7 linked regions of the Homo sapiens genome follow. The protein of the gene in region 1 interacts with the protein of each later gene in a biochemical or structural test. Each region holds a gene or a part of one and is shown on either strand. Other genes may lie near its edges.

Region 1 (3,500 bases):
ACACTTGTGGCCAAGTTAATCTAGCAACCACAGTGTTGATTAGTGGATCTGCCACAACCTAGAGGACATTCCTAGGACCCATCCTTTCTAGCATTCAGACTACGAAAGTGTTCCAAGAACTTTCAACAGCAACAATGAGCTGCTAAACGTTAGCATCTACAAAATGAATTTGCATAGGGATAGAAGAGCAGTTACATGGGGACAAGCCCTGCGGACTGTGAGGTCAATTGGCCATGTGTCCAATATAGCTCAACTGCATGTATCACTGATGATGCCCAAATTGACATAAACTTCCTGACCACATTGGCCAACATGATGAAACTCCATCTCTACTAAAATACAAGTATTAGCTGGGTGTGGTGGCGCGTGCCTGTAATCCCAGCTACTCGGGAGGCTGAGGCACGAGAATTGCTTGAACCAGAAGGTGGAGGTTGCAGTGAGCCAAGATCATACCACTGCACGCCAGCCTGGGCAACACAGTGAAACTCCATTTAAAGAAATAATAATAATAAGATAAACTTCTCCATGAGCCCCAAACTCATGACCAATTGAATGCCTATTCAACATCTCCACTTGAATGTGTAGCAGGCATCTCAAACTTAACAGGGTCAAAAATAAACTCCTGTCCAGGCACCATGGCGCATGCCTGTAATCCCAGCACTTTTGGAGGCTAGGGCGGGAGGATCACTTGAGCCCAGGAGTTCAATACCAGCCAGGGCAACATGGCAAAACTTCATCTCTACAAAAAATATAAAAAATTAGCTGGGCATGCTGGCACACACCTGTGGTCCCAGCTACTCAGGGGGCTGAGGTGGAAGGATGGCTTGAGCCCAGGAGGTGAAAGTTGCAGTGAACTGAGATCGCACCACTGCAATCCAGCCTGGGTGACAGAGTGACACCCTGTCTCAAACAAAGAAACAAAGATTTAATGTGGCCATGATAGCTGTCTTTGAATACTATGAGGCGAGCATATGAAGGGAGGTAGCCAACTTGCTCTGCGTGTTGACAAAAAAACAAAGGAGAGCGGCTCTGAACCTATTTTGGTTCTAGGAGCTGCTTGATTCACAGATCATTCTTTGCTTCATTAAATTCTGTAATGCTTTTCTTAGAAGTAAGTAAACACAAGTAGAAATTGCATGGAAAGAAAACTGTGGCTCAATACAACATAATTCTGGCATTCGAATCTAAAGTCATGAGAGTCACATAATGCATTTCCCCACTGCCCAGTATCTGGAAGGGATTCCTGTACTGAGTGTGGGCTAGAAGATCTCTTCCTTTCAACCCACTAATTCTATGACACTAAGGAAAAGGGGAAGATAGGAGCTAGCGCAGAGAAAAGAGCAGACAGGGACTAGGCCTGAAACAGACCAGCACGGAAGTGGTCATGGAACCCAGAAATGGAACAAGGAGCTACGTCGCAGGCCACAAAAGGGCTGTAAGTACTCATGAGTAAGGGGCTGGAAGTGGGAGAAGCAAAGTCTGAACATCTGCTGGGATGAAAGAGGGGAGGGCAACCTTGGGTGTAACAAACGCTACCGGCTGGCAGGGACGACATAGCGACTGAGGGGTGGTCATTCGCCACACGTCTCAGGCAACACTTTCTCCAACTGCAGTTCTGTGACCTGGACATCTCATCCCCTGCCAGGAACGATTTCCCACCTTCTCCATCCAAGCTCCAACAGGAAGGTAAACCCCTCCCCAGAGATCTCCATCTTGGCCAACATGGCAAAACCCTGTCTCTAACAACAACAAAAAAATTAGCCAGGCCTGGTGGTGCACATCTGTAATCCCAGCTACTTGGGAGGCTGCGGCAGGAGAATCGCTTGAGCCCGGGAGGCGGAGGTTGTAGTGAGCCGAGATCATGCCACTGCACTCCAGCCTGTGCGACAGAGACTCCATCTCAAAAAACAAAAACAAAAACAAAATCCCCACCCTCACACAGCTTTTCCATACTTCTACTCCAGCACACCCAACACGGGTTCAGGATGAACTCCTGCAGCAGCGACTGCTGGACACACGGACTATGTTTTTTTGAGATGGAGTCTCGCTCTGTTGCCCAGGCTGGAGTGCAGTGGCGTGATCTTGGCTCACTGCAACTTCTGCCTCCCGGGTTCAAGCAATTCTCCTGCCTCAGCCTCTCGAGTAGCTGGGACTACAGGTGCATGCCACCACGCCCAGCTAATTTTTGTATTTTTAGTAGAGACGGGGTTTCATTACGTTGGCCAGGCTGGTCTTGAACTCCTGACCTTGTGATCCACCTGCCTCGGCCTCCCAAAGTGCTGGGATTACAGGCATAAGCCACCGCACCCAGCCTGGACTACGTTTTCTTTTGCTTTTTTTTTTTTTTGAGACAGAGTCTCATTCTGTAGCCCAGGCTGGAGTGCAGTGGTGCAATCTTGGCTCACTGCAGCCTCCACCTCCTGGGTTAAAGCGATTCTCCTGCTCGGTCTCCCAAGTAGCTGGGATTACAGGCATGTGCCACCATGAAAGAAGGCAGGGTGCCTTCTTTCTTGCCAGGTGCAAATCCATTACAATAAAGTACCATTCCTGTTCTCAAAGAGCTCACACAATGAGGGAGGCAGCCACTGTATCGTGCAAATAATGCTAGCTATTAAACAAGCCCTGATTCTCAATGGCTTAATTCAAAATCACCAGCCGAGGCAGTGGATCACATGAAGTCAGGAGTTGGAGACCAGCCTGGCCAACACAGCAAAACCCCTTCTCTACTAAAAATACAAAATAAATAAATAAATAAAAAATTATCCGGGCGTGGTTTTGAGCTCCTGTAATCCCAGATACTTGGGAGGAGGCTAAGGCAAGAGAATCGCTTGAACCCGGGAGGCAGAGGTTGCAGTGAGCCGAGATCACGCCACTGCACTCTAGCCTGCAAGACAGAGATAGACTCCGTCTCAAAAAAGAAAACAAGAAACCAAGACCATGCCTATTGTCATGCTATAGTCCCCTTTTGGGCCATCTAGGGTGGTGAACAACACCATACATTTACTCCTAGCTGGACTTTCACCATCTTGCGGCTCGGCCTCCTCTCAGTCCTCCTCCTCTCCAGGAGGCCTCTTTATTCAGCTGGAGAGGCGTTGCATGGGGCTGGTTTTTGTGTTCCAGTCGTGGAAGCGAGACACCTTTTGCAACCACTTCCTATTGGCCAGGTCTCAGTTTCATGGTCACCTCTGACCACAAGGTTGGGGTAGAAAACATAGTCCAGGCTGGGCATGGCGGCTCACGCCTGTAATCCCAGCACTTTGGGAGGCCCAGGTGGGTGGATCACCCGAGGTCAGGAGTTCAAGACCAGCCTGGACAACATGTTGAAACCCCATCTCTCCTAAAAGTACAAAAAATTAGCTGAGCATGGTGGCGCACATCTGTAGTCCCAGCTATTTGGGAGGCTGAGACAGGAGAATCGCTTGAACTCCGGAGGCAGAGGTTGCAATGAGCCGAGATCACGCCACTGCACTCCAGCTTGGGCAACAAGAGTGAAACTCCAT
Region 2 (3,500 bases), on another chromosome or scaffold:
GCTCCGCGCCTTTCAACCGGTTCTCGCTATGCACAAAGGAAAGGCCGGCCTCGAGCTTGTCGCCCTCTGCTGGAGCATAAAGTGCTTCAGTGCATTTCTTCCCTTCCGCCCTTCTGTCGGTGTTGGCGGCCGGCTGACTCGGGCTTTTGTCTGTCTGTCTGTTGTCTGTCTGTTTGCACAGGGTGGGGCAATCTTTCACAGTGGATGGTTTGGGGTGCTTTGGAGACAGGGTTTGCTTTTCACCAACAGCGGACAGTTTCTGGTCCGCTGGCTCACTAGGCCCTGGGTGTCCCGGCCTTGGCAAATGCACAGGCTTCTCCAGCACCTCCAGGGGCCGCCCACCACTGGTGGGTTGTGGCTTGGCGTCTAGAGGAGCCCTGTCAGTGTGCAGTGGGACAGAGGGCCCACCTTCTCCCTGGCCAATCCCATCGCTGGCTTTGTTCTGGGAGCCTGGGGTAGCAGGAAACACATCCGGCCCACTCTTACTGTGGCCCTTCCCCTCTCTGCTAGAGCCACCGAGGGACTGAGTGGCAGGCTCTTTGCCCTTTGTGGCCCCGACACTTGGTTTCTGAGAGGAGAGGGACCGGTCGGGGTGCTTAGTCTTTGGAGGGCCCGGGTCAGGGCCAGGCCGGGGCTTGTGGCTGCTGCTTTCACTGTGCGCAGCAACAGGCTTGGGAGGGTCCTGGGGGCTCGAGCTGGGCTCTGCAGTGCTGGGCTTGGCCCCCGGCTCTCTGCCAGAAGCGTGGCTTGGGGAACTGCAATGCTGCCTGGCAGCCGGGCTGGACAGGTCTTTGGCCGTCAGAGGGGGCGGAGGGATGCTGCTGGGATGCCTTTGTAGAGGCTGCTCCTTCCTTTCAGGTTCCTTGGCACCATCTTTCTGCAAAGATGGGAAACTGGAGAGCTTTTCACTCTTCTCACTCTCAATTCCAGGTGGCTGCAGAGACCGCCTGGCAAGAAGCGCTTCGGGCTTGGGTTCCACGCCACGCCTCACCTTGCCCAGCTCCTTCTCACAGGGAATTCCAGCTGAGTGCAGAGAGGAGTTGTCTCTGGGCGGGGGCCTCGCCTCACCTGGGCCATCTTTGTGGTTCGTTTTCCCACCCGGCGCCCATGCTTTCTCCATGGCCTGGGTCTGTGTATAGAAATCTGGGTGGGTCCTTCCCACAGAGAGGAGATTTTTGGAGTTGTCACTGGTTTTCGCAGTTTCTGGAAAGCACAGTTCCATGGAGGGCTCTCTGCATGTGTCAGCCCTCGCAGCAGAGCGCTCGCTTCTGGCTGTGGGAGGGCCTCTTTCAGACGATTCCCTCAGGCCTGGCTTCTCCCTTGAGGGGGAAGCTTCAGGTGGGAGCGGGCAGCGTGGCCTGGCCAGGTCAGGGCTGTGGAGGTTCTGCCCCAGGCAGGTCAGAAGCTTGGGGTCAGTGGTGTGGTCTTGGTGTTTAGGGGAGCTGCCCTCTCTCTGTTGGGGATTGCTTTCCATGACTGTTCCAGGGCTCCTGGCAGTAGGATGGGGACCTTTCCTGTCCCTCTTGAACTCTGGGTCAGGCAGGGAAACTGCTGGTGAATTCTGGAGACCTCGGCTGGGGGGCAGGAACCAAGGCTCCAGCAGGTAGGATTTATTCATCTTTAAGCTGGAAGGAGAAAGCTCTCTTGCACTGGTGGTATCGTTCTTTTTCCCACTGCTGCTGGGGAGAACTGGTGGCACAGAGGCCCTCACGTCACCACTTGGGCTGGGGCTCTGTGCAGACTCTGGGGAAGGCAGTTCTGTCTTGGAGGCCTGAGGTCCGGACAGGAGAGCAATGTCCAGAGTGCCCTCGATCGGCTTCAGGCATGAGACAGACCTACCTTCCAGCTTATACTCGGAGGGGCTCTTCCTAACAGGGGACTCAGGAGCAACCAAGCCAGGCTTCTCCGTTCCACTGTCCACCCGGCCTGTTAAGGCCTTGAGGGGAACAAAAGAGACGGCACTCATCTGAGCTGCATGGGTGCTGCTGACAAAAGCTCGGCTCTCAGAAGCCGGCGGGGGCTCCTGCTGCCCACCCGTGGGTCGGACTGGGTTCCCTGGCAGGCATTCGTGGGAGCCAGCTGTCATCTTGGGCTTCAGCACAGGGCAGAGGTTGTCCTCTTTGTCCTCAAGTGACATTTTCTTTCGGAGGTAATCGATGTTGGCCAGCTTGCTGTCTAACTTTTCACATCGGAGAAGCTCCTTGGCCTGGGAGGACTTCTCCGTGCCTTCCCCCTTCCCAGAGATGCCCCTGTCGAGGGAGTGGCAGAGACCATCCTGGAGGGTGCCAGGAGCGGGGGCCCGTCTGAAGTCCCCGCCACCCTGGCGGTGCTCCGCAGGCACCCGGCCATCCGACATCGCACCCTCGCTGGCGCGCACGCTGGCCTGCTTGTGAAGAGCATCCTTCAGCAGGCTGCCCAGCGGTGGCGCCTCCTGCATAGACGCTTTGTTTTCAAAAGTACTTGACCTTTCCACAGCCTTCGGATAGACTTTCTTCTCTCTCTCTTCCAGCTTAAACAGAGCAAAGTTTTCCAAATCACTCCCGGGTCCATGGGATTTCTGGTGGGATTCCTGTTTCTCTGGGAAGCCGTCTGCTTTCTTCACCACCACCTTGGCCTTCAGCTTGTCGCGGTCCAGGTCGTCCACAGACTCCTGGCGGCCCACCTTCCGGGAGACTGGGCGTTTCAGGCAGCCTTGCTCCACTGGCCGGGCGCGGCTGAGCGGCGGCACGTCGCACACGTTCTCATCCAGGCTCTGCAGCGGCGCCTCCCGCTGGGACTGCTCCCGCTGCACCTCCTCTTGGGTCACCTCCAGGCTGTGCTTGCGGGAGCACAGGTGCTTCTTGTCACTGCCGTAAGAGGGCGACAGCTTCTCCTCGGACTGCACGCGCTTGAGCAGCGGGGACCTGGGGGGCTCCGCACTCTTGGGCCTCACGATGTGTCTGACGATGGTGGGCGGGGAGTGCATCTTGCTGGGAAAGGCTTGCGCGATCTTGGAATTGCCCAGTGAGTGTCCCAGAAGAGGGGATGGTGACCGCTGCGGGGAGGTGGGTTGCGGGGTTGGAGAGGGCGTCCGGGCCAGCGGGGACAGTGGGATGTTGCCGGCGGACTTTCGCCTTCCGGACCGGTACCGCTGCCCGCCGAGTTTGGGTGCAAGACCGTGGAGAGTGCTGGGCCGGATGTGCCCGGACCCTGCTGGGGAATTGGGGGCACTAGAACTAGGGGAGCTGCTCTGGGAGGAATTAGTACCTGTGGATGGAAAACAGAAGGCTGTGAGCATCCATGGTCATTTTCCCCTTTTTTTCACAGTTGTAGCCCAGACTGTATTAGGTAAGGCCAGGTAAGATCAGCAAATTGTCTCAGCATTTAGCTAGTGGAATAAACACTTTTCAGATAAACCTCTCCAGGCCAAGGTTTAGCCCCATACTTCTTGACTTATTTGTTTGGTCAGAATAGCCACATCTTATGACCTCTCTATAAATCTGTCTTTATAATTTACACCT
Region 3 (3,500 bases), on another chromosome or scaffold:
ATTTCTTTAATTTAGGGAAGTTGTAGTGAAAGGTTAGGTTTTTGTGGGTTTTTTGTTGTTGTTGTTGTTAACACATCCCCTTTCTTCTAATAGGGCTAGAAGAACTAGTTTGGGACAACAGTCATTAGAATTCTATTAAAATTTCTTAATACACTAATCATTTATCCTCTTTTTAAAAAATTGACACATAATAATTACACATATTTGTGGAGTATAATGTGATGTTTCAATAGACATATACATTGTATAGTGATTAAATCAGGGCATTTGGCCTATTTATCACCTCATATGTTTATCATTTCTTTGTGATGAGAACATTCAAAAATCCTCTGTTCTAGTAATTTTGAAATATACACTATAATATTGTTAACTATAGTCTCCCTACTGTGTAATAGAACACCAGAATTTATTTCTCCTATCTAACTGTAACTTTGTACCCGTCGACCAATCTCTTGATGCTTACTTAACTCGGAACTATTCCTCTGGAGTAGAAATAAAGAACCTTCCAGGAATATTGACCTGTAGGGTCCTTAAAGGCAGTGCCTCGCTTTGCTTCTTGTGTCACTATCACCTACCCTGAAACCTGGCAAACTGAGATCATTAGAGACACCTTCATTTAATGCCAGTTAGAAAAATACAGAAACACAAGAGTTATATCTAGTAAAAGCAAGAGGAAGGGAACTGATATTTATTTGGAACTTAACCATGTCAGGAACAACATTATTGTATTTTCTATTGACAAGAGTCCTGTGAGGTAGCTATAATCTATTTTCAAGAAGAGGAAAACTAAAGCAATCAGTCAATCTTAGAAAGGTTAAAATCATAATAGAACAAAATTTGAACTCAGCTCTTCATGATTTCTCAGTTCATTTGCTTTTCAGTATAAGTTGCCCTTCTGTGTGGGGGTCTCTTATTTACACTTCCCTGTCTCTACCTCTTTATCTTCCTTTTAGTTTCTTCCTCTTTTTAAAAAGTGTCTTTCTCTTCTTAAAATGATGTATATTTAGAAATCTAGACATTAAGAGAGTGGATCCCACACATCGCTAGTGAAAATATAAATTGGTATAGTCTTTTGGGTAAAGATACATATATATATATATATATATATATATATATATATATATATATATATATACATATACATAAACACACATGTGTATATTGATGGTTCCTATAACTTTGTGGTGGAAAAACAAGAACTGAACACAAAGCTTATCAGTAGGTGAATGACCAAATGTCCTACATCCTTGATATTGAATATTATGCAGCCACTAGTGATTTCTAAGCTGTATTGTTAAGTGAGAAATTATATATGTACTTTATATAGGTACATATATAATGATTCCACTTTTTCAAAACAGTGACAGAATAACCCTATATGTGTTTTTATATGATTATAAAGCATGGATTTTTTAACAGTGTTCATGTGAGAGAGAGGTAGTAAGAGAAGTATTAAGATTGTGTTCCCATGTATTACAATGAGTCTGCACATGGGTACTCACAAAAGGATGCATGAAAGTATAGTCACCAGCTAGAAATCTAGTCAACATGAATCCCTCTCTCTCTCTCTCTCCCCACCTAATCAGTCTCAAAGTTCTGGTGATTTTCAAGAGTTTCTCACATATTTTTCCTACTTTCCATGTCTTCTACTATTGCTTTATTTGTCATTTTTGCTTCAGCTACTGAAACAGCCCCCTGACTAGCCCTCCTGCCTTGAGTCTTGTCCACCTCAAATCCACCAACGATTTACTTGCCAAAGTAGACCTATCCAGGGATATCTAACACGTAAACTCTCTACTTAAAACTCTTTGTTGATGCCTTCTTACCTGCACTACAAAAGCCAAACCCCTTAGGGTGATCTAAAAAGCCTGGCAAAACTAGGGCTTGACCACTTCTGTCATTCCCCACCTTCCGCATTTACTCTGACAACTGCAGACTGCCAGTGGTTGTCCGTCTAGGCCATGGGGACTATCCTCAGGTCTTTGCTTATGCTGTTACTCCTGTTTGAAATCCTCTTCACATCTTTCCCTTCAGCTCCCCACCTCTCTCCCTCCTTCATTTATCCTTTCAAACTGGTTTCTGGGGTCTCCCTGATCTCCCCTCAACCTCCAGCTAGGCTAAGCTGGGTGACTCTCCCGTATGGCTAAGCTGGGTGACTTTCCTGTATGGCTAAGCTGGGTGACTCTCCTGTATGCCTCTATCTTGTACTTACCCTGTGTACTGTCATGAATTCTTTCTCACTTTCTCTTCTTTACTAAGCAAGGGCGGGAACTGACATTCTCGTCATTATAATTCTGGTACTTACCATAGTTCCTGGCACTGTTTAGTTGCTCCACAATTGAATGCCAAGATGCTATCCCCTTGGCCACCACGTGCATGGATCTTTGAATCATAACCAAAAGTGATTTCACATTCAAACTTTAGAGATTGAAATGAATCATCTTCATATTTAGTAAGTGGAAAAGATGTTTCTTTTATATATCTCTAATACAAATAACTTACCAGGTTAAAAGGGTGAGATAATAAGGCTGATACACTTTATTCATTGTTTAAATTGATATATATATATATTTTTTAAATTGATACATATGTTTTTAAGTAATTAATGTGCAATCATGGTATTTACACTGTAGCAATTAAAATTAAGGTAGCTTTGTTACTAAATGATTATGGTGGGGATATAGTTATTTAGACTCTCAAGAGTAGAACTGCATAGTTATTTAAATATTGATTCTGTGGGTACAGATAGGTATTGTTGAAATAAGTGATATTTGGTTGATAATCTGCAATAAGTGAGGCTTAGTGCCTATGATGATGCCACACACTGGGAACCAACAAGTCCCAAAGAAATGTTAGTTTTGATATTTTCAGCTTGTTAGGCATTTTTAAAAATGACTCATATGTAGCTGAAAATTCTGTATTAATGACCAGCCACAGACCAGGGCAGTGGTTAGTTTGAGTTGAGTAATAGAATAGTATATTTTGGGGGCTAATTTTCAAAGTGTTTAGAAAGAGACATTTGACTTTTAAGTTAAGAGAACTGGAGTTGCTAATAAACACTGCAGAAAACAGAAATGTCTTCTATCTGATTTAATGATTACAACACAAATTATACTCTTTCAGGCCGGGATATTACAGCTCATGTTTCTGAAAAGACTCTCTACATGTTAATTTTTCCACTATTACTAGTTTCACTTTAAAGAATAGCAGTTTGAAAGGTAAACTGTTCATAACATTGAACAGGGTAGAGTTTAGGTTTGTTACCATGAGTATTTTTGCTCCTTAATGCTATTTCAATCATTTTAATAGCAGTAATTTTGTTTTTTTTTTCAGTGGCATACTTCCCAGTTAAAAATATTTTTTATAATCACGATGAATTATGTAATATGTGCTTTTTTTTTTCTACTACAATTTTTCATAAAAAGGAGTTTTATGGAAATTATAGACAGTAAAGTGATCATTACTATATTAACTGTGATTATAAATGGGTTGTTTTCAGG
Region 4 (3,500 bases), on another chromosome or scaffold:
AGAACATCTCTAAAGGCTTTATAACGCAGTCATAAGAGAAGAGAATTGGTGAGTCTACAGACAGTCCTTGATAAGTACAGCAAACTTGTGCCTGGTGAGGCACAAAACTTGGGTGTCTGCAAGATAAATGCTCATATGACCACAGATTTGCTAACCAACCTTTGATACCAGTTGGGCTTTACCCTCTTCAACTTGGGCACAATCTTCCAGCCAAAATGCATCTGAGGTAGAGGAGGTAGAGGAGGAAGAGCTTTCATTGTCTTGCTTCACCATTATCCAGTATGGAGAAGGGGCCCTCACTTCTTTCTTGTCGTCTCTGTGAATCATCACGTCACAATTAATGTCTTTTCCTACACTAATAGTATGGTTCTTCTTCTTATATCCATGCCAGTCTCTGGAGATGGATATTGGTCTCCTTGCAGGGTGATGCACAGTTGACCACGGATATCTATAATATTGAAGTCTTTTATCTAAATCTACATTTTCATTATCATCACTGCTTGTGAAAGATTCATCTTTTGCCAGCTCAATTTTCTTTGGTGTGCTGAAATGAAAAGAATAGTGAATAAAATAGATTCTTCATGTCTAAACATTTATGGTCCCCTAACAAGATGCCTTATAACTTGCTTTGACTCATAAAAGATACAATTTAGCTTTAGCATTACCTTTCTGTGTCATTGAAATGTTTCTCTTTTTTAAATCGTCTTGAAATCTTTTTCCATTTCTAAATGGAAATCAAATTCTGCCTTAAATTACTTCACCATACCTTAAAAAGTTTTGCACAGACTTATACTAGACTACTGACCAGAATATTAGGAGGTGTTAAAGGGTAGGTTAATTTCACTGCAGCTAAAGTGACGGATTCAACCTGGCCATCTCCTGAGAACTCTATTCTTGTGGCTCACGTGGCATTAACACAACATTACTGATTTCCAGAGGAGTCAGGAAGTCAGGAAATAGTGGGCCTTAAGGATCTTCAACATCCTAGTCATTAGTAAGTCTTAGAGTCTTTTTTTTAGAGAGGGTCTTGCTCTGTCACCCTTGCTGGAGTGCAGTGGTACAATCATAGCTCACTGCAACCTTGAATTCCTGGGCTCAAGTGACCCTCTGGCCTCTGCTTCCAAAGTAGTTGAGACTACAGGTGTGTATGCTGTATGCCACCGCACCTGGCTAATTTTTATTTATTTTTATTTATTTATTTATTTTTAAAACAGGATCTCCCTATGTTGCCCATGCCTGTCTCAAACTCCTGGCCTCAAGCAATCTTTACTTTGGCCTCCAAAGTGCTAGGATTACAGGCATGAGCCACTGTGCCCAGCCAGGTTTTTGTTGTTGTTGTTGTTGTTGTTTTTAACTTTCTCCAATTATTGACTTTCTTGATTGTTGAAACTAGGTGGTGCTTGCCTGCTAGCACCTCCAGGTCTCTGAACTTTCCTAATGCCTACAGTACCTGTGCTTGCTTTAACTTTCCAGAATGAATGCTCTGTCACCTGCTTTCCCTCATCCTGGTGCTATTGCCCAGCAGAACCAAAACTAGATCTTTGTGATTACAAATCTCTGGTACATTCTGCCCTGCTAAAAGGAAATAGGTTTCTTCCCTGCCAACCTGTTAAGACTTCTGGTGTTATCACTAATAACCTTGGCAGTCTGCCTGTTGTATTTGCTTCCAATAATTTGAATGGCTTTTCCAAAAGTTTATCTCTTCCAGTAATAAACAGTTGATAATGAGTAATTTTTACTGAGAGCCACTAGTCTTAAATACTGATTTTCTTTGTCTGATTTGCCTTCAGACACACCTAGGTCTTCCTGAACAGCACATGAATTTTTTTTTTAAATCCAAGTATTAGTAACTTTTTTTTTTCAGACTGCAGGGGGAATCCTTGGCAACTCTGATGGTTAGGTAACCATAAAGGACAGGTAAATTGTCATTAGGTAATAAAGCCACAACCCTGCAGAGGTCAGGATTGGCTAGAAACAAACTTTCTATACCACTTGGCCTACCCAGAGCGTTACATGGAGAATTTCTCCAGTGTGTATACCCAGTGCCATTTTCTCCTGGAAAAGTTTATACTAGCTTTGTGAAAGCATCTTTTTCCTTCTTCTTTCCCTGCCGCGTTATACATAAGTTACTAAAATGCCTCAGATATGGGTACTTTGCCTAATTAAGAAAGGGAATCAGCAGGTGCTTGGTATTGTTTGTGGGTTTTCGCCTCTTACTTAAGTTGTACTGTTCTATCTTTTCTTTGCTTTTGAATGGTCAGTCTACCATCCTTAGAATTTAATATTCTGGATCTCAAAACTCCTCCATGTAATGAAAATGCTTAGAACATAGTTGTTATGTAATCACATGAGCCCAGGCTTTTAGAGTCGTGCCCTCCAGTGTAGGAGTCGCTGAGTAGGATTTGATTGTGAGTTGTGATCGTGCTACTACACTCCAGCCTGAGTGACAGAGTGAGACCCTGTCTCAAAAATAAGACTTTTAAAATTAAAAATTAAAAACAAGTGAACCACTGACCACATGAAAGTCCTAGGGCAATTTTAGCAAAACAAGACAGACTCAGTCCCTGCCTTGATGGAGTTCACATTCTCCCAGGGAAACACAGTGAACAACTGATTACACAGATTATTTCATTAAAATTGGGATAAATGTGAAGGAGCGAGCTGTGAGAGCATATGTCAGGTGGACCTGTTTCTAGGAAGACCCCTTGGAGAAGTTACACTGGAGCCTTCAAGGGTGACTACTGAAGAGCAAAGTTACAAACATGTTGCACACAGAGAAGAGCAAGTGCAAAGACCCTGAGGCAAAACAAAAGGCAGAGAGCTGGAAGCTAAAGGGGGCTAGAGAAGGATGGGGAAAGCAGTATGAGTTGAAGTTGGAATGGTTTGCAGAGGCCAGCTGAACCCCATAGAGCATCATTGGCCAATGTGAGGATTTTGACATTTATCCAAAGAACAAAAAGTCTTAAGAGATTTTTTGCAGGAACATGCCAGGATCAGATTTGCATTACAAAAAGATCATTCTGGCCAGGCTTGGTGGCTCATGCCTGTAATCCAACACTTTGAGAGGCCGAGGCAGGCAGATCACCTGAGGTCAGGAGTTCGAAACCAGCCTGGCCAACGTGGTGAAACTTCGTCTCTATTAAAAATACAAAAATTAGCTGGGTGTGTTGGCATGCGCCTGTAATCCCAGCTACCCTGGAGGCTGAGGCAGGAGAATCACTTGAACCCGAGAGGCAGAGGTTGCAGTGAGCCAAGGTCACGCCACTACACTCCAGCCTGGGTGACAAGAGCAAAACCTCGTCTCCAAGAAAAAAAAAATACAGTTTTGGTGATAATACAGTTTGAAAGTAATTAGCATGTGGATAGTCATAGAAACCACAGGCATCAATGAAACTGGCTAGGAGAAAGGACACCAAGAGGAAATGGCCAGAGGTAACAGGAAAATCAGGGGAGTGTGGTGTCACAGAAGCCTGGGAAGTGCTATTTCAAGAAGAGAGTGG
Region 5 (3,500 bases), on another chromosome or scaffold:
ATATGTGTGAAAACATTGAGGTTCAAAAGACCATGGCTGGTTTGAGGCACATTCTCTGAGAGTAGAATGAAGAATATGCTGGTGTGGAAGGTGGATGATGAAGCTAGAAAAAGTAAGTTGCAGTAAATTTGTTGTGCTGGGTTTGGGATGTTGAGGAGTTTCAACTTTTCCTACCAGTTGGCAGCCATCAAAGGTTCTCAATCTAATGAGTAATATAATTAAATTTGCTATCAGTATGAAAATTGTCCACAACAGATATGGAAGTCTCATTCACTTCATCTTATTTAACACGTATAATGTGCTATAATTTACATATGTTACTTAATTCTTATAGCAACCTTGTGTTACATATATTTATCCCCATTCTACAGCTAAGAAAATAGAGGTTCATAAAAGCTGAACAACTTGCCTCAGTTCACAGTAATAACTGGAGTTAAAAGAAGGTCACCATCAGTCTACATCTTGTAAAAGTACAGGAAAGGAATCTTAAGGCTTACAGAAGGACTATTCCTTAGTATTAGGTATAATGAGTTAGTTAAGTCAGAATTAGGCTGTATAGATGGTTTCTCATAATATTGAAATGTATTATTTAGAAAACTATATACCAAAGTCAATATAGAAATGAATAGTACTGGTCGTTTTTAACAGAAGTGTTTATGTGGTCAGGAATATATTATTATTTCAACATCTACATGAATGTCAATGTGAAAGAATTCAGATCTGAAGTTCAGCATATGAAAGTGCTTGGCACATTGCCTCCCATGTCAGGTAGTTGCTCTGTAACTGCTGAATTGGAATCTAGACTGTGTGGAAGAGGTCTCAACATATCTCTGAAGTTAGTATCTTCACATATACATTAATCCATCTGGGGCAGAATGCACTCGAATGCCAGACTTACAAAAATAGCTTTGTTTTCATTTGCAGGTTCTGACTTTTAAACAGGTTCAGAAATTCACATGATCAGCTAAGATCTTATTCTAGGAGGCAAAGAAAAAAACTAACTGCTATGAATACTTTTTAGAAAGAAAAAATATGTAAACACCAGAAGTCATAGTCAGAAGGCATTCTTCTTCTTCTCTTTTCTGACTCCCTTCCTGCCAGAAAATGCAGCTTCTATACATCAGTGTACTTTAATACAAGATGGGCTAAATTGCCTTCATGTGAACTTTTTTTCTGTACTAACACTGCATGTTATGTTGTCTGACTTTGCTAACTATGTTTAATCACATATTTACATAAAATCAAAAATTTTTTTTAAATTATATATATAACATAAATATATATAATATAAATATATATATTATATAATATAAATATATATATATTTTATATATTTTATATATATATATATTTTTTTTGAGACAGATTTTTGCTTCATTGCCCAGGCTGGAGAGCAGTGGCGTAGTCATGACCTTGACCTCCTGGGCTCAAGTGATCCTCCCACTTTAGCCTCCTGAGTAACTGAGACTACAGACATGTGCCAGCTATTTTTTTTTTTTTTTTTTGAAAGATGGGGTCTAACTATGTTGCCCAGGCTGGTCTTGAACTCCTGGGCTCAAGCAATCTTTCTGCCTCAGCCTCTCAAAGTGTTGGGTGTACAGATGTGAGCCACCGTGCCTGGCTTATATATTTTTAAAAATTAAGTTGACTCTTTTGGCTTAAGTATTTTAAATAATGTTTACATTTCAGTAGGATAGGGTCATTATGCATCTAGATTATATAATCTTTTACACACTATTTGAGATATGTTTCTATAAAATCCTTTCATGAATGTTTTATGTCAATTTTGTTGTTTTCCTATATATTCTTTAGTCAGTGAAAGAGATAGTACTTCATGTCTTTTTAAAAAATAATAATACCTGTTGTTATTTAGGAGTAAAATAACTGTGAATCACCATTATTACAAATAATACAGCTTAGATCAAAGATCAGTATCCAAGGGATATATTTTAGTAGATAAGACTTTAAAGAAAGATGTTTTCTTGAATTTGTGGAAGTTACTTAAGTACCATCAAGGTGAAAATCTCCCTTTTTAACCATATAAGCTTTTTCTGTAGTTATAAAAATAATGGTTTCTACCACTGTACTAATTAATGATAAATAGGGAAATACCTTAGGAACTGTAAAAGAAGAAAGCTTATTTTTATTTTCTAGTTTGAATGAAAAGAAAAGACAAAAACTGGGAAACTTATCTAACATATCTAACAACCACATTAACTCTTGTTCCTGATATGCTCTGTCTTACTCAGTTAGGCTAGCTGTGAGCAAGCCAGGCCTTAGCAAAGGCAACACCAGGCAGCCAGTTAGAATTGTCATTATTAGCAGGATATGGCTAACAATATATGCACAGCCAACTAGGCCTTAATCATAGGGGGATAGCAGGTATAGTAAAAAAGATTATGCTGAAATATGGGTAGGATCAATATAATTAAAATCCTTGGCCAGGCGCAGTGGCTCACACCTGTAATCCGAGCACTTTGGGAGGCCAAGGTGGGAAGATTGCTTGAGCCCAGGAGTTTGAGACCAGCCTGGGCAATGTAATGAGACCTCATCTCTACAAAAAATTTTGAAAATTTAATTTTTTTTTTTTAAAAACCCTTGACTAAAGTTTTAAAAATCTCAATGTGGGATAAATCCACACACACATTGAACAGTTTGGTGGGAGGACATATGTAGGAATGCAGAGAAAATAAAATAAATGAGTTTTGTATTGTGAAATATCCCACAGTTATTTGGCCCACTTTATCACAGAGTCAGAGCTTTATCAGCCCCATAGTGCTCAGTTTTTAAAACAGGTCCCTTTTCCTGGTATACTGGCCTATGTCCTACCTACCATATTAAGAATTCTTTACCACGTAAATTTATTCATGCAATACATGAACCATTCCATTTTACTCATAATATATGTTACCAAACCAGACTTTAATCAAGAGATTTTGCTACTGAGGTTGTCTAAGATTTTACTTTTTACTCTTTTTGAAGGCATTCTTCACGAAAACTTTTCATTGCTTTAATTACATCAATTAATTTTTTTTTAAATACCTCATTAGTTCCTTTATAAATGTTACTGTTTTTGTTAGGATGGTCGTTTGAAGCCAGGAGATCAACTTGTCTCAGTCAACAAGGAATCTATGATTGGTGTATCATTTGAAGAAGCAAAAAGCATAATTACCGGAGCCAAGTTGAGGTAACTATACTATCCATGAGATAGAATGAGTCATTTAGAATGTCTCCTTGAAAGCAGTAATTTAAGATGTATTAAGTACTTTATAATAAGTATTTTTTAATAACATCTGAAACATTATCTTGGATTTCAGTTGTACTATATTCATAGCATATCCATAAAGTGATTTCTTTTTAGTACTAGGTTAGAATCTGCTTGGGAGATAGCATTCATAAGACAAAAATCCGACAACATTCAGCCAGAAAATCTGTCATGTACATCACTTATAGAAGCTTCAGGAGAATATGGACCTCAAGCCTCAACATTAAGTCTTTTT
Region 6 (3,500 bases), on another chromosome or scaffold:
TCTGACAAGTGTGGTATTTCATTCCCGGGGTCACATGAGATTGGATCACCAGAATGGTGCTGAAATGCTGATTTGAGGTGACTCAAATCGTTTATATAGACAGAGGCCCCACAAATGATATCACATCCTCAAGGCAGCCTTGCTGGGGGCATCAGAGAAGCCATAGCTTCCCTAACTTGAGCTGGGTTTGGAAGGATAAACAGGGGTTCACCAGGCAGTCAAGGAGGGAGGGGAACAGCATGGGCACAGGCTCTGGGAGGTGAGGTGACTCAGCCCAGGTCACCCAGGCAGTAAGAGGTGGGTGGCAACTGGAAGCCTGGTCCTCTCTTCCCACCATGTTGAGTCCTTAACCCTGGAGCCTCCCATACCTTTGGCATTGCCAAGCTTCCCTGATGATCTCTTCCCTGAAAGGACTTGGCACCCAGGAGCCCCTCATCCCAGCCCACTCACCTGGTGGTGGGGAAATGGCTGTTGCCTGGACTGGCAGGGCTGGCATCTTGGGTGAGGCTCTGACCTGGGCCTGGGGAGGAGCAGGGAGCACTGGTCAGCTGTGGCCAGGACCCCAGGAACCCCAGAGCCTGGAGCTCCATGAGGCCAGGGTCTGGGCATTAGGGGTGTGAGTGGGCCCGGGGTGTGGGGGGAGTGTGCACCAACCCTCAGGGCTCAAGATCACGTAAACGTGGCCTCCGCAGATGTGTCTTTTCCTGGGAGGAAGTTCTGGGGGACTGTGACCCACCCTATGTCACAACCCATTTACTGCCTGCAACAGGCAGAACATCAAGGCCCATCTCCCAATCAAGTTCTCAGCTGAAAAGTCTCCATTTCTCAAAACCCACTGGAACCACAGAGTGCTGGGATGGAGGAGGAAGGGGGCTTCTGGGGGCTAAGCAGACCAATGCCTATGCCCACTAGTCTTGTTTCCTCTGAAAGCCTGCCTTAGAGCATGGAGCCCGCCCATCCTGGAGGGAGGGAGAGCTGGGCCTGGGCAGGACAGAGCAGGCATGAGAGAGGCATGCGTGCGCTGCTTGGTCTTTTCTATTCTTGCTGTAACGCCATTGGCATTGCCCCCTGGATGTCTTCTCTGCCCAGCAGGCCCTGCAGTGGACACCTACATGCCCTGAGGCCTACGGGAATCTCCAAGTGGCCCCAGTACCCAGCACCTTCCAGGGTAATCCCCAAGGTCCCCTTCAGGGAATCCAGGCCAATGGGGCCTGGCGACTTACCTGAATGGCTTGGTCCACTTTTAGGTCCTCTAGAGATGGGTACAGGGATGACATGGCTGATTCTCAGAACACCCTGCAGAGTGCAGAGGGTGGGGAAGGATAAGGATGCAGCTGATGCCCCCTTGAAAGGAGGCACAGACATCCGCAACAGCAAGCGGGTTGGAACTTAATATTCAAACAGAAAGGCAGCAGGGCACTTAGAATGCCTCCCCGAACTCCACCCCTAATCCCCTGTCGATATTTGAACTCTACTGTATTCCACTCATCTCCAGCCTCACTGTCAACTTTTAATCTTGGCCACAATGAAGTAAGACCAGTAGGAAATTTATAAAGACTCTCACACAAACTGTAGCAGAACTTAGACACTCAACAGGGCACTGCTCCAGAGGGAGGAGGGAATGGGGGGTGGAGAGGCACCATGAGCACTTATTTACTAAACACCTTCTCATTGTCCCAGGGAGAATCAGCAGGACCTCTGAGCAAGGTGCCCCGAGAAAGTGAAAGGAATGATGACCTCTTAAGAAATGTTTTATTCCCTTCCTGACGAAATGTGGGGAAGGAGCAGTCTGCCTTTCTGGGTTCCTTCCCTTTACTCACTAACCACTGGCTCTGTCACACCTCCAGGCTTCGCTGAGGCAGTCCACTCCAACTGGAGCCCCTGCCCAACCTCCTTGTCACCCTCGGTTCCTGTGGGACACGCCTCCCCTGGCTCCCAGGCAATACGGTCACTGCCCCTCCCACCCAGGACCCTGCCCTCCGGGACAGCTCCGGGACAGCACCGGGCCAGCCTCTTGCTTGAACTCGCCACTTGTCCTGACTGCAGTTCTGAGGGGTAAAGGTGTGTCCTATTCACCCCACTGAACTCACATGTGATGGGTACACATGATAAAGGAATGCCCGCTGGTGGCACAGGAAACTGAGGGTCCTGTGCCTGAGCGATGTGACTCCAGGCTTCCCAGGATCAGATCCGCTGGGCACCTCCCTGAGTGACCACAGGCACGCCGAGGACATACTCATCCATCACTGCTCCTTCTCCTCCCTCTGCACCTGCTGCCTTGACCCCTGTGTCATCCTTGGCCCCGCCCCCACTATCCCTTCTTGTCTGTCATCAAATCCCATCTCTCCCACATCCCGTGTTGTGCAGGTCCCCATCATCTCCCTGGCCCTCTCCAGGTGCCATAACACCCTCCAAACACACTGCTGCCTCCCCTCCTGCCGTCCTGCTGCTCTCCAGACAGCAGCCACCAGGCCCTTTGTGTACACACTTGGGATGTCATGCCCTGGCTGAAAGCCCGCCAGTGGCTTCCCTGCCTTGGGAATGTACTCTCCTTAAAGAGGCTCACAGGGCCTTCACGATTCCACCAGAGATTGGAACTGGTGGGCCCAGGGCCAGATGGAAATAGATTTTATTTGACCTTGTGGAGTACTGTAAACGTTCAGATTAGCAGCTTAAACACAAAGCTCAAGGTACTGGATTTAATAATCGAATTTCCCACTGCTCCCAAAAAACAGGAAGCTTTGGCAACCCTAGGCTATAGCAGAGTAGCTACAATTGAGTAGCAGCAGACTCCAGGGTGACCCAGTCCACCATCCTCTATTGGCTGTTACACCCAGACCATTGTACTCACTGGTGCCAAGTCCCAATAGATATTTGTTTGCAACCCTAGTCTACCTCTCCAGCTTCATTTCTTGCCTTACGTCCTTTCAGCTGCTACTTTCAACTCCAGCCACAATGAGCTACTTCCACGTCCTTGCATGTGATTCCCTCCTGTCTCTTTTGCATGTGTTATTCCTTCTATCTGGAATACCCCTCCTCTCCCTGCTCCTTGCTTGGCCAACTCCTAATAATTTTCAAGTCTCAGATCAGGGAGCTCCTCTTACAGGAAGCCTGCTTTGATTTGTGCTCCCCCTAGCCCCTGCTCCATGTCCTACTCCTGTTGAGTATTCACCACTCTTGTGGTTGCCTCTTTACTTGTCTGTCTACCTCCTTAGGAGTTCCAAGATGGCAGGAACAGGGGCTTCTCATTTGCTGTGAAGCCTCTAACCCCTAGCATGGAGGCTAGCTCAATAATATTGCCAGAAGCAACACATTCTACCTGGGCTTCCACTTTTCTCCTTGTAAAGTAAAGCTCTAGTATCCTAAGAACACCCACCTTCCTGGATGAAACAAGGACCAGAAGTCCCAAATGTGCCTCTCACAGTCCTGTTTTATTATTATTATTATTTTGAGACAGAGTCTCACTCTGTTGCCAAAGCTGGAGTACAGTGGCGCGATCT
Region 7 (3,500 bases), on another chromosome or scaffold:
TGACATCATACACTCTGAGAAGCTCCTGACTCAGGCCCCCTCTGAGGCACTCCTCCCCACTACTCCACTACCACTAGGGCTGCCCTTGTTCAGCCACACAGAGTCAAGGCTGGAGGTGAGTCAGGGGCCAGGATCCCAGCCAAGTGGGGAAGCTTCAGAGGTCACTCATGGGCAGAGCAATGCTGACATTTCCCCCATCCAGCCTGTATCTCAGTCTGGAGGAGGGTGATGAATGTGATCCGTTAATGGGAAAGGAAACCCCGGGCTCATAGAGGTCATCTGGGCACCTAAGGCTCCAGAGGCTGGATGAGGACCAGCTTTGCTGAACTCCAAAGATGGAGCATCCTCACCGTGTGCCAGGGCCAAGCACAAACAGGGCTGACCTCACAGGCCTCTCCACCATGTTTAAAGGCTCCAAGCCAGTGGCTTACCTCCCACCCTGCCAGCTCAGAGGCATGGTTAGCTGTGTTGTGGTTTGGGGAGGCTTTGCCCACGTACTTCCACAGGGGGTCATGGAAATCCCCTCAGCAGTGAACACGGCAGAGCTGATAAGTTATGCCCGACTTCTGTGGATCAAGGTGGGCAGGGGAGTGGGGAGATCCCACTCAGCCAGGCTTAGGCCAACTGCTTCTCAGAGCTGAGTAAAGACCCAGGACCTGAGCAAGGCTGGGTCCCCCCACCCCCACCCCCAGTGGACCTTCTATCCCAGGATCATTTATGGAGCACAGATGGGCTTGGTAACCCCCTGTCCTCCCCTTCTTGATTGGCTGCAAAGCATTACACAGTCCTTAGTGGGAACTTTTCCCAAATCCAGATTTAACCAGGGCAGAGGTGTGGGCCACGGTGGCGACAGCTGTGGCAGGGCAGCTGAGGGGCTGGTAGGAGTAGTCAGCAGCCAAGTTAAGGGTCTGTAGTCTTAGGAGAGAGCCCCAAAATCAAATTTTGCTACCCCACTCCCTCTCTGTGTGACTTTAAGCACCATCTAACCTTTCTGAGCCTCACTTGTCTCATCTGTGAAGTGGGGACTATAGTAGCCCTTTTTTAAGTTGGTAAATGAGGGTTAAATGAGGTGTTGCACAAGAAACTACTTTGAAATGGTCATCAAGCTGGTCACTCAGGGGAGGGGAAAGGAATGAAACAAATGCCCCAGAGGCTATTCAAGGTCTTATTTCAGTTGCCTGCAACACTTGCCATAAGTGCCCCAACACACTTCTAGTCTAAGTTAAAAGGGGATTTCTTCCCTTCTTAAGCTATAACTCTAAACAGTATCTGCCAGGCCCCCATGAAAGTGCTACTCCTTGGGACTGTTCCTGGATGGGGCACCCAGGAGCTGAGGCAGAGAGGCTGTGTGAAGCTGGGCTCACCCAAAATGCCAGCTGCCCATAACTGCCCACCTCGTCCTTCCATCCTCCCAGCCCAGCCCACCTGTGCATACCTGCTCACAGACAGTGTGAGGTGATCGTGGCAGCCCTTGATGCGGTTCTGTGCCTCCAGGTGTGTCATGAGCTCTGTGCTCTCACCATTGATGGCCTGGATCAGGTCTCCTGGGCACAGGGCAGCCAATGCAGCCTTGCTGCCAGCATGGACCTGCGAGCAGACAAGCCAGATGGCTGGGCACAGTCATGATATGGTCTTGCTGCAAGCTGTGCCCTAGGCCTCCTCCAACCTCAGAACCTAGCCAGTGTGGCCTGCTACCAGCATGGCCTGTGGATGGGCAAGCCGAGTGGCTGGTTGAGGTCCCCATGTAGCCTGGCTGCAGCCTTGCTGGAAACACCTCCAACTCCAGCACCTGGAGGCCTGGCAGGGCATGAGGATATACGAGAAGGGCTTCCTCAGGGCTGGGACAAATGGATGTTGTTCTTGCAGCCTGCGTATGTGCCCAAGGACATGCAGGGGACACAGAGACACATGGAGACATAGGTGCTCACAGATACATACACAGCATGGACATATCACAGATACCCTACACAGACAAGGCCCCAACCAGACAGACTACACACCTTGACCTAATATTCAAACCCTTAGTGACCTTGCCTTCCTACTTGCTTGATTTCAACTCTCATCCCCACCTCCACACCCACACTCTGTCCAGACCATGTGAATGTCTATGGGGTGCTCACAGGCACCATATATCACTCACCTCTACACTTCTGCAAAAGCTGCTCCCTCCACCTGGAACATTCCTTTGACTCCCACATCCTCATCCTTCAGATCTCAGCATAGAGGCCACTTCCTCTGGGAGCCTCTCTGGGATCTCACTACCCAGTGTGCTCCCATGACCACCTTTTCCCCCTACACTGTTCATGTTAATACTTCATTATAATTAAAATGGGAAGGTCTGAACATCACCTCCCTGAGCAAGTCCAGGGCCATCCAGTTCCAGCTGACAGCCTGCGTTTGGGGGTCAGAATTCTACCTCTACTTCCCCTGCAGGACAGGAACTCAGGCTACCTCAGTGCCACTATTGACCCCTCGGGGTCAAGCAGTGTTCACACCTGGAAGCTCTTACAATGCTGGTCAACTGAAGAAGGCTAGAATGGGGGGTGGAGTTAGACTCACAGAGATATCTAAGTAAGCAACTCAGGGGAATCCAGGCCATGGAGCACCCCTCACCCTGCCTTGACCCCAACATAGCCTTTAGAAATATATTTCTTACCCAGCCTCTCCAGCCAGTGCCCAGCTGGTTCAAAAGCTGCCAGTGACCCCATTCTTTTGGGTGGGAGCTCCTACTGGTGGGAACTCCTGGAAGCCCAGCTAGGCTCAGTTCAGCCAGGTCTCAGTAGTGAGTGGACAAAGCTGAGGTGCTGGCAGCTCCTTGGCTGGAGGCCTGGTGTTGGCACTGCCCAAGCTGACCTGCCCTGAAGTAGGCTGCCTCAAGGAAACGTTCTTCTGAAGCATGACACCCTCAGCCAACTAGCCCATCATTAATGTTCACTTGTAGGGCCTGGGCACCTGTGCAAGCCTGTCATCCTGGGGGAGACACCCACTTGGCACCATCCCACCCTCCCCTCAAGGCCATCCTCTGCCTCCTCCCCTTCATGGATACCTGCCTTGTGCCAGGGCCTGGGCTCTATGCTTTACCCATAACTAGCTCACAGCAACCCCTCAACCACCTGGTGAGGCAGAGGCTGTTCTCATCCCTATTTTACAGATGAAGAGAAAGAAGCTTGGGGGAGGGATGCCATGCCCCAGTCCCCACACTGGAGAGGAGTCTTTCTTCAGGGGGCGGCTAACTGCGGCAGGATGACTCAGCCAGCACAAGGGGTACATTCAGGCTTCTGTGGGCGGAGGAAGTTTCTTGAAAGCAGTGGTGGCTGGGATGCTGCCAGCTCTATTGAGCTAGGGGAGTTCTGGTCAGAGAGGGCGTGAGGCCAAGAAATTGTGACTCTCCCAGTCACCTTTACATGCATTATCTCATTAATCCTGAAGGCAAGCCCATTTCCTAGATCAGGAAACGGAGGTCCAGAGAAGTACAGAAGGATAGTTAATTGATAAAAGAC

Evidence for each region.
Region 2: the proteins of ABCC4 (region 1) and MAST4 interact in a test that uses a peptide from one of them, tested with the Homo sapiens proteins (one large-scale study listed by IntAct).
Region 3: the proteins of ABCC4 (region 1) and INTU interact in a test that uses a peptide from one of them, tested with the Homo sapiens proteins (one large-scale study listed by IntAct).
Region 4: the proteins of ABCC4 (region 1) and PDZD9 interact in a test that uses a peptide from one of them, tested with the Homo sapiens proteins (one large-scale study listed by IntAct).
Region 5: the proteins of ABCC4 (region 1) and STXBP4 interact in a test that uses a peptide from one of them, tested with the Homo sapiens proteins (one large-scale study listed by IntAct).
Region 6: the proteins of ABCC4 (region 1) and SDCBP2 interact in a test that uses a peptide from one of them, tested with the Homo sapiens proteins (one large-scale study listed by IntAct).
Region 7: the proteins of ABCC4 (region 1) and PDLIM4 interact in a test that uses a peptide from one of them, tested with the Homo sapiens proteins (one large-scale study listed by IntAct).

What each region holds. Positions count from the first base shown.
Region 1 is NC_000013.11:95,291,452-95,294,951, forward strand, and holds part of ABCC4 (ATP-binding cassette sub-family C member 4), read right to left. Parts: intron 1-3,500. UniProt on the Homo sapiens protein: ATP-dependent transporter of the ATP-binding cassette (ABC) family that actively extrudes physiological compounds and xenobiotics from cells.
Region 2 is NC_000005.10:67,162,893-67,166,392, reverse strand, and holds part of MAST4 (microtubule-associated serine/threonine-protein kinase 4), read right to left. Parts: intron 3,247-3,500; coding exon 1-3,246.
Region 3 is NC_000004.12:127,639,457-127,642,956, forward strand, and holds part of INTU (protein inturned), read left to right. Parts: intron 1-3,500. UniProt on the Homo sapiens protein: Plays a key role in ciliogenesis and embryonic development.
Region 4 is NC_000016.10:21,984,117-21,987,616, forward strand, and holds part of PDZD9 (PDZ domain-containing protein 9), read right to left. Parts: intron 545-3,500; coding exon 151-544; 3' UTR 1-150.
Region 5 is NC_000017.11:54,996,265-54,999,764, forward strand, and holds part of STXBP4 (syntaxin-binding protein 4), read left to right. Parts: intron 1-3,080; coding exon 3,081-3,187; intron 3,188-3,361; coding exon of another isoform or gene 3,362-3,367; coding exon 3,368-3,500. UniProt on the Homo sapiens protein: Plays a role in the translocation of transport vesicles from the cytoplasm to the plasma membrane. Inhibits the translocation of SLC2A4 from intracellular vesicles to the plasma membrane by STX4A binding and preventing the interaction between STX4A and VAMP2.
Region 6 is NC_000020.11:1,319,140-1,322,639, forward strand, and holds part of SDCBP2 (syntenin-2), read right to left. Parts: intron 2,062-3,500; exon of another isoform or gene 1,297-2,061; 5' UTR 1,278-1,296; coding exon 1,224-1,277; intron 521-1,223; coding exon 451-520; intron 1-450.
Region 7 is NC_000005.10:132,260,696-132,264,195, reverse strand, and holds part of PDLIM4 (PDZ and LIM domain protein 4), read right to left. Parts: intron 1,588-3,500; coding exon 1,436-1,587; intron 1-1,435.